Linked DNA regions of Homo sapiens. The protein of the gene in region 1 purifies or fractionates together with the protein of each later gene. This does not show direct contact. Each region holds a gene or a part of one and is shown in the gene's direction. Other genes may lie near its edges.

Evidence for each region. The genes of interacting proteins can lie anywhere in the genome.
Region 2: the proteins of OIP5 (region 1) and CYTH3 purify together in Homo sapiens (affinity purification with mass spectrometry; 4 studies listed by BioGRID and IntAct, with this or other methods). This does not show direct contact.

The regions. Positions count from the first base shown.
Region 1 is NC_000015.10:41,328,887-41,334,504, reverse strand, and holds the start of OIP5 (protein Mis18-beta), read left to right. Parts: upstream 1-1,913; 5' UTR 1,914-1,943; coding exon 1,944-2,265; intron 2,266-2,523; coding exon 2,524-2,590; intron 2,591-5,618. Other genes in the region: NUSAP1 (nucleolar and spindle-associated protein 1), read right to left, coding at 1,455-1,547. UniProt on the Homo sapiens protein: Required for recruitment of CENPA to centromeres and normal chromosome segregation during mitosis.
Region 2 is NC_000007.14:6,164,625-6,168,124, reverse strand, and holds part of CYTH3 (cytohesin-3), read left to right. Parts: intron 1-2,314; coding exon 2,315-2,391; intron 2,392-2,508; coding exon 2,509-2,580; intron 2,581-2,697; coding exon 2,698-2,852; intron 2,853-3,108; coding exon 3,109-3,181; 3' UTR 3,182-3,500. UniProt on the Homo sapiens protein: Promotes guanine-nucleotide exchange on ARF1 and ARF6. Promotes the activation of ARF factors through replacement of GDP with GTP. Plays a role in the epithelial polarization.

The DNA.
Region 1 (5,618 bases):
TACAGCCCAGAAATATCCCCAAGGAAAACCCTTTGGTCATTCAGCCCCAACAGGCACTTAGGCCCTGATTATTTTGTTTAAACAATTTAGGTCGGGTGGGGTGGCTCACGCCTGTAATCCCAGTACTTTGGGGGCTGAGGCGGGCGGATCAGGAAGTCAGGAGTTCGAGACCAGCCTGACCAACATGGTGAAACCCCATCTCTACTAAAAATACAAAAATTAGCCAGGCGTGGTGACACGCGCCTGTAATCCCAGCTACTCAGGAGGCTGAGGCAGGAGAATCGCTTGAACCCAGGAGGCGGAGGTTGCGGTGAGCCGAGATGGCGCCACTGCACTCCAGCCTGGGCGACAGAGCAAGACTCCGTCTCAAAGAAAAAACAAACAAACAAACAAATAAAAAAAAAATTGTGACGATTGATTTAAGCATTTACTCACTGTCAGTATCACAGCCTGCAGGAGAAACCTCCAGAGTATATAGCAGTATTATGTGGGAAGTCTCAACTATTAACAAAATATATAAAACCGCTATCCTACATTAAATCCCCAAATCTTCTTCTAACATCTTGGGTTTTTTGTTTGTTTTTGTTTTGTTTGAGACTGAGTCTCTCTCTGTCACCGAAGTTGGAGTGCAGTGGTGCGATCTTGGCTCACTGCCACCTCGGCTTCCCAGGTTCAAGCGATTCTTCTGCCTCAGCCTCCCAAGTAGCTGGGATCACAGGCAAAAAGCTTGGATCACAGGCGTGTGCCACCACGCCCGGCTAATTTTTTAAGGGCCAGGCTGGTCTCGAACTCCTGACCTCAGGTGATCCGCCTGCCTCGACCTCCCAAAGTGCTGGGATTACAGGCGTGAGCCACAGCGCCGGGCCAACTCTCCAAACATCTTGTAGCCTCGGAGTCAAAGACCTTACTGGTTTTGATAGAGACCATCAACCCAACAGTCATCAATAAAAATTTACCCAAGGAGGTGCTCCCCTAAAAGTCGATTTTTTTTTTCTGACAGGTCCATCAATAAAGTATCAAGAGATTATCGGCAATATTACAAATCACTGGAGTCTGTTTGGGGTTTTCCAGAAGCTGAGCCAATTATTTACTTAATTGTCTAACGATTAACGACACCCCTTGTGCTTTCTGGGCCTGAGTTTCGTAATCGACGCCCTGAGAGGTATACAGTAATTTCAAAACAAAACAAAACAAAAAACAATAAACCATCCCTCGGAATAGAGCTTATCATGTGAGCACCCAGACAAGCCAGCTTCAAAATGAGGTGAAAACTACAGTTCCTCTTCCGTTTATCAGAGTTCTAACTGGGACTACCGTGAACCACATCTACTGCCCGAGGGGCAGGGAGAGCTGCCTCAGTCCCGGGCTTCCCTCTCGGTCCCTTCGCACCGCATCTCCCCGAGGCCGCTATTCCCGCCGCGCCCGCCCAGGGACCCGCACCGCCAGCGCCGTACCCTCAGGTTGGCCCGGAGACCCAGACTCTTGGCTAAGTTCTGCAGGTCACTGTACTTGAGGGAGTCCAGCTCCTCTAGAGAGGGGATGATCATCGCGATTCGAAATCCCGGCGATACTCGGAAGATGGATCACCAAACTTCGTCAGCGCGGTTCAAATCCCTGGCGCCACTCTTAACTTTGACTAGGCAGAAATTTATAGACAGTTTAAATGAAGAATGCCGCGCTTCCATTGGTTGAAAATGCCTCAAAGGCGGGGTTTCTAACCCTGACCAATAGAAAGGCTGATTTCCCGTCCCAACAGAGGCGCGCTTTTTTCACACTTCACGAATACGCAGGCGCCAAAGGGCCTGTAACGCCTGTTCAGGTAACGAGTGCGCGGACTCGGACTCCAGTGCTTGGATTGCCCATGATGTCCAATGAGGACGCAGGAGCTGTGCTTGGGGCGGGGCCTGGCGTGTATTCGAAAGGAAGGCGCCGGCTGCGGGAAGATGGCGGCTCAGCCGCTGCGGCATCGCTCACGTTGTGCAACGCCGCCCCGGGGGGACTTTTGTGGTGGCACTGAGAGGGCGATTGACCAAGCTTCTTTTACGACCTCCATGGAGTGGGATACGCAGGTGGTGAAGGGGTCCTCGCCGCTCGGCCCCGCAGGGCTGGGGGCTGAGGAGCCAGCCGCCGGCCCGCAGCTGCCGTCTTGGCTGCAGCCTGAGAGGTGCGCTGTGTTCCAGTGCGCACAGTGTCACGCAGTGCTCGCCGACTCGGTGCACCTCGCCTGGGACCTGTCGCGGTCCCTCGGGGCCGTGGTCTTCTCCAGTGAGTGCAGTGAAGCGTTCGGGAAAGGCAGAGGCTAGCCCGAGAGGGTGTTCCCGCTTTCTCCACCGGGTGGCGGAGAACCACCTGGGGAAGAAAACGGGATGAAAAGTTGGAAGCAAATAACTCCTTGGCCTGGGGATGGGGCAGGGAATCGGGGAGTCTCCTGATATTTACGGCCAGGATGAGTCTGTCTAGAGGAGAGATTTTCCATTTCAAGGCCCGCAGAGTATGGGTTCTGACCCGTGTTTGTCTTCCTAGGAGTTACAAATAACGTCGTTTTGGAAGCGCCCTTCCTAGTTGGCATTGAAGGTTCACTCAAAGGCAGGTACGTATTGATAATTACATTGGTCTCTAGTCCCTGACTTTATGAGACTGAGGATCGTGGAACTGACATGTACGAGGAGAAAACAGTTTGGGATGCTGCTTTTACCTGTTTGACTCTTATATGAACTTGATGTATTAATGAAATGAAAAAGTTGTATTTGTGTATTGGTTTTAGGATCTTCCTGAGGGCCACTTCTCCCAGGTGGCTTGTACAAGTGAAGTGAGGCTAAGAAAGATGTATCTAGTAGTGGACAAAAGAAAAAAATAACCTTTTGGTTTACAGTGAGAATAACATACTATAAACTACAATCCTTTTAGATATTAGAACTTTTTGATACAGGGTCTTGCTCTCGCCCAGGCTGGAGTGCACTGGTGCGCTCATAGCTCACTACAGCCCCTACCTTCCTGGCTCAAGCTATCCTCCCAACCTCACCCTCCGGAGTAGCTGGGACTACAGGCACACAGCACCACTCCCGGCTAATTTTTAAATTTTTTGTAGAGGCCTTAGTATGTTGCCCACGCTTGATATTAGAACTTTTAAGTTTGCGATTATGGTTAGTTTGTAATAAGCTATGCCAGGGCTAATTCTTCAGTAACCCCAGAAACTGGAGAAAAACACAACTAGAATGTTATGTACTTGAATACTGCCTGGTAAACTTTGCGACCTGCCTGTACTATGATTTACAAGTGACAATAAAGTAGTCAGTGAATTTGGTATTGCAAGGCTCCTCAATTTTGAGTTTTGGCTTTAACATTGAGACAATTCATTTCATTCTGACCAGTTTGATTCAACGTTACGGTTAAAATATAGGAATTCTTAGTTGCTTTGTCCAGTAACCAGGAAGATTTCTGCAGCTTGGACAAACTTCAAAAACGGAGTTAGACCCACAGCTCCCTTTCTTTTTCCTGAATAAAAGACACTCCCTATCGCTATAGGAGTCCCCTTCCCACCCAAAGGGGACAAAGCAAGAAGGAGCAATTGCCTGCTTGGAATTGGGTGTATTCTGGGGCCAGAGGCAGAAGGTTCCTGAATGTGCTCTTGGAGAGGAGGCTAATGAATCTAGACCCGTGCTGTCCTATACTGTAATCACTAGTCATATGTAGCTATTATATATTATTAAATCTGCATTGAGATATGCTGTGAACACAGAATACACACTGGATTTCAAAGACTTAGTACAGAAAAATTAATCATTTACAAATACTGATTACGGGCCGGGCGTGGTGGCTCACACCTGTAATCACAGCACTTTGGGAGGCCGAGGCGGGCGGATCACAAGGTCAGGAAATCGAGACCATCCTGACTAACACGGTGAAACCGTGTCTCTACTAAAAATACAAAAAATTAGCCAGGCATAGTGGCGGGCGCCTGTAGTCCCAGCTACTCAGGAGACTGAGGCAGGAGAATGGCGTGAACCCGGGAGGCGGAGCTTGCAGTGACCGAGATTGCGCCACTGCATTCCAGCCTGGGCGACAGACTCCGTATCAAAAAAAAAAAAAAAAAAATACTGATTACGGCTGGGAGCGGTGGCTTACGCCTATAATCCCAGCACTTTTGGGAGGCCATGACAGGCAGATCACCAGAGGTCGGGAGTTCGAGACCAGCCTGACCAAAATGGAGAAACCCTGTCTCTACTAAAAATACAAAATTAGCCGGGCATGGTGGCACATGCCTGTAATCCCAGCTAGGCTGTAATCCCAGGAGGCTGAGGAGGGAGAATCGCTTGAACCCGGGAGGTGGAGGTTGTGGTGAGCCGAGTTCACGCCATTGCACTCCAGCCTGGGCAACGAGAGCGAAACTCTGTCTTAAAAAAAAAAATTGATTACATGGTGAAATGACATTTTTGATATATTGGGTTAAATAAAATATTTAAAAACTAATTTCACCTGTTTTTATTTTATTTTTTAAAGCAAAATTAGGCCAGGCGCCGTGGCTGATGCATGTAATCCCAGCACTTTGGGAGGCCAAGGCGGATGGATCACGAGGTCAGGAGTTCAAGACCAGCCTAGCCAAGATAGTGAAACTGTTTCTACTAGAAATACAAAAATTAGCTGGGCGTGGTGGCGGGCGCCTGTAATCCCAGCTACTTGGGAGACTGAGGCAGAGAATTGCTTGAATCTGGTAGGCGGGGGTTGCAGTGAGCCAAGATCATCCCACTGTACTCCAGCCTGGGCAACAGAGCGAGACTCTTCCTCAAAAAAAAAAGCAAAATGAATAGAAAATTTAAAATTACATATGTGACTCACATTATATTCCTATTAGACAATGCTTGTTTAGATGCTTTGTAAAAAACTGGAGGAAGGCCAGGTGCAGTGGCTTACACCTATAATCCCAGCACTTTGGGAGGCCAAGGCAGGCAGATCACAAGGTCGGGAGTTCGGGACCAGCCTGGCCAGTATGGTGAAACCACGTCTCTACTAAAAGTACAAAAATTAGGGGGGCGAGGTGGCAAGCGCCTATAGTCCCAGCTACTTGGGAGGCTGAGGCAGGAGAATGGCTTGAACCTGGGAAGCAGAGGTTGCAGTGAGCCAAGATCGCACCACTACACTCCAGCCTGGACGACAGATCGAGACTCCGTCTGAAAAAAAAAAAAAAAAAAAACTAGAGGGAAAGCCCCATGTGTTTCTGTATTTGTGGAGTAAGATGAGCTATATGGGACTTACGAAGAGGGTTATGAAATGGCACAGCTCAAGACAACTTGATTTTTTTCTAAGTGTAGGTTCATTACCTAGATGGGGTCAGAGAATGAATTAAGAGGATGATTAATGATGCAGCTAAAAGAGCATAAATTTTAGAGACAGCAGACTCGGGTTCTTTTTATTCTTTTTTTTTTTTTTTTTTTTTTTTTTTTGAGATGGAGTCTTGCTCTGACCCAGGCTGGAGCACAGTGGCGGGATCTTGGCTCGCTGCAACCTCCGCCTCCCGGGTTCAAGCTATTCTCCTACCTCAGCCTCCCGAGTAGCTGGGATTCCAGGCGCACGCCACTATGCCTGGCTAATTTTTGTATTTTTATATTTTTAGTAGAGAC
Region 2 (3,500 bases), on another chromosome or scaffold:
GACAGAAACTTACAGAGAGAAAGTGGCTCCCATCTGCAGGTTCCAGAAGCCAGGCTCTTGTCTGCAGGCGAGAATGCTGTGTGGTGTGGCCAGAAACAAGTGTGAGCAGAGCCTGCTCGGCTCTGAGACCAAGCTTATCACCCCTTCCCTGGGCCTGCAGTCCTGGTCTGCAACGACCCCCTGGCCCTGAGGACTGGACAGGGATGGGGCTCTGCATGGGAGGTGTGAGCGGGGGACCCAAGGTGGAGCTGAGAGGCCACCTGGCAGACCCCTCCCAGGCGGGGCCAGGTGTGTGGGCTAGTGGAACATACAGGTCCTTTGCTGTCCACCATGCTGGGAGCGTGGAGGAAGAGAGCAGGCGCTGGACAGAAACACACAACCTGGGGGCTCCTGGATGAGCTCCCCAAGAACTGGAGACTCAGATAACAGGGCAGGGAGAAAGGCCACAGCTGGGGAGCCAGGAAGGGCAGCCCCTGCTGCCGCCCAAGGAGTTGGGTTTAAAGCTGAGTGCAGTGGGACCCTTTGGGGGGCTTCAAGCCGGAGGGGCATGATTGCCACGTTTTTGAAAAGATGCCTTTGGCCGCTGTTTGGGGGATGGCAGCTGGCACCAGTGCAGCTGGAGCGGGGCCTGCTCTGGAGTCTCTGGAGGGAAGCAGAGGCGACCGTGACAGTGACGGATGTCAGGGTAGTGGAGTTGCTGTCAGCTGATTCTGCCACAGCAGTTCAAGCTGGAGCAAGTGCCTGGAAGGAATCAGCACTGTCCTCCTGTCCCTAGGGTCTCGGGGACATAGAACACCTCTCACTGCTCACTGGAGGACTGTGGGACAAGGCAGGTTGCCCCCAGGGTCTCCTGCCCTCCCCTGTGGACTTGGGCCTCCCTGGTGTGCTGCAGTGGAGGTGGGGAAGGTGAAGGCCAAGGGCTTGCAGAGAGCATGGAGCCCGCGGTGAGACAGGGACACGAGGGCAACAAGGACTTTGGGCCTTGCTGTGGGCCTGGCTGGGTCTTAAAGGGGACCAGTGAGGCGGTGCCACAGTTGGGGCAGAGGGTTCCAGTGACGGAGCAGCTTGCAGGGGTTCGGGGAGTGGAAGCCCCGCCAGGGCTCAGGAGAGATGTTGGGGGCAGGGTCTGAGGGCTGGGGAGATGCAGCAGAGAGCTTGGGGGCAGATTTGCCCAGACCAGGGTCTAGACAGACCCTTTAACAGGTAGGCTGGTGGGACACTGATGAGACTGGGGCCTGTGGGGAGAGGAGGAACAGCTGGAGGCTGGGCTCCTGTTCCAGGCTGGCGGTGGCAACCGCATTGCAGGCTGCCTTAGGCATCAAAGGAGGACGGCAGCACTGAGTGAGGCAGGGGCCAGAGGGTCCCAGAGGGACTGCAGAGACCCGCTTCCGGCCTCCAGTTCCGCTGAGCCAGGCTTCCTCCCACCTGCAGCTGGTTCCTCCTCACCCAGGGTCTCTGCAAACCAGGCCCCAACAGGGAAAGCCCCCTGTGTCCTGGTGATCCATCCACAGAGCCCTTCGCACACAGTCTTGCCTCCAGGCCTCAGCGCCCGTGCTGGCCCCCACTTAGGGAGGGAGGGCTACTCCCCTGCCGGCCTGTCACAGAGAAAGCCGGGTGAGCTCCGCAGCGCTGGAGAGGCATGGGGCAGAGAGGGCCTAGTACCCCAGGGAGCACTTGAGTTCATTGTCACCAGCGTGTATTTCTTTGAATTATTTAAAAAACAAACACCGGCAAGGCTATAGCAGCTGAAGTCAGTTTGTCTCTGCTCAGTGTTTAAGGATCAGAGATTTCCTTCCCTTAGGGAGAGGAGGGCAGGTACAGATGGGGGTACGTGCGTGTGCACGTGTGCTCCAGATCTTGTTACAAAATTAATTCAGTCTCACGATTCCTTGGGCCCAGGGGTGACTGATTTTGATGGATCCCAGGGCTGCCCAAGGGCCTCTGTAATGCGATAACCACCTGACATGGTGGGGTCAGGTCCTGGACAGAGCCAGGCGCGCAGTCCTGACTTCATCACACTGCCATCTCATGTGGGAAAATGACGCCATCCATCCCACTAACTCTCCCAGGAAGCGAATTGTAGCGCGGTTGTGTCATCAAGGGGCCCATCAGTGCCGTGGAGGGGGCGCCGGTGTGGGCGGGGTGGGTGCATGTGGGGCCCTGCGGTGGGAACGCTGAAGGACACCTGAACCCAAGCCTGGCGCCTGGTGGCCTTTCTGAAAACGCAGTGGTCTGTGCAGGTCCAGGGCCCCCTCTTGGACCCGCGGGCTCCCTGTGCACGGAGCGCAGACTCACGGGGCCCTTCTGCTTCTAGGAGGGCGTGTGAAGACCTGGAAGCGCCGGTGGTTCATCCTGACCGATAACTGCCTCTATTACTTTGAATACACAACAGTAAGTAAGGGCCAGGCCTCCTTGCCGCCTCCCAGCAGTCCCGGAGCTGCCCTGGGGCCGAGGGACCCTCAGGCTGGTGACCCACAGTGAGCCCCGCCGTGTACTTTCCTCTTGTAGGATAAGGAGCCCAGGGGAATCATCCCGTTGGAAAACCTCAGCATCAGGGAGGTGGAGGACCCCCGGAAACCCGTAAGCTCTTCCTCCTGAACCTTCTCTCCTGCCAGCCACCTGGGAGCCATCCTCACTGCCTGCAGGGAACCTGCCCCAAGCCCCCCTGACCGCCTCCCCTCTCTCTTTCTCCACCAGAACTGTTTTGAGCTCTACAATCCCAGCCACAAAGGGCAGGTCATCAAGGCCTGTAAGACTGAGGCCGACGGCCGCGTGGTAGAGGGGAACCATGTGGTGTACCGGATCTCAGCCCCGAGCCCGGAGGAGAAGGAGGAGTGGATGAAATCCATCAAGTGAGTGGGGCCTCGGGGGCGGGGCCAGGCCCGTCTTCTCGTGCCGGTTGGAGGGCGGGGGATGGTCTGGAACATGGATGCTTCCGTGTGCAAGAGTGGACCTTCTGTCTCCAGAAACCCCAGAGGGCCGGGCTGCCAAAGCCGACGTTCAGATCTGAGCCTGCGGTCCTGTCTGAGGGGCCTCTGGGGCTGGTGGGAAAGGGGAGGTCTGTGTGTCACCCACGACCTAACCTGTGTGTTTTCCTTTTTTCACCAGAGCCAGTATCAGCAGAGATCCCTTCTATGACATGTTGGCAACGAGGAAACGAAGGATTGCCAATAAAAAATAGCTTTCCTGGCTAAAAGACCCAGGTAAAAGACCCAACCCCAGCAGAAAGACACCGCGGGCGGCCCCTCCGCGGAAGGCGTGGCAGGGAGGCAGTCGCCCTGCGGTGCAAGCTGCTGCTCCAGAGCATACCGTGGCCCAGGTGGTATCCCCAAGGCCTCGTGCCGTGGCTGGGGTCCTGGGAGGTGGTCGCCCTGCAGTGCAAGCTGCTGCTCCAGAGCGTACCGTGGCCCAGACTGATCCTCGAGGCCTCCTGCCGTGGCTGGGGTCATGGTCGGCTGCGCATGTCCAGAAGCATTTCCTTCCTGCGACCATCCCGGCGC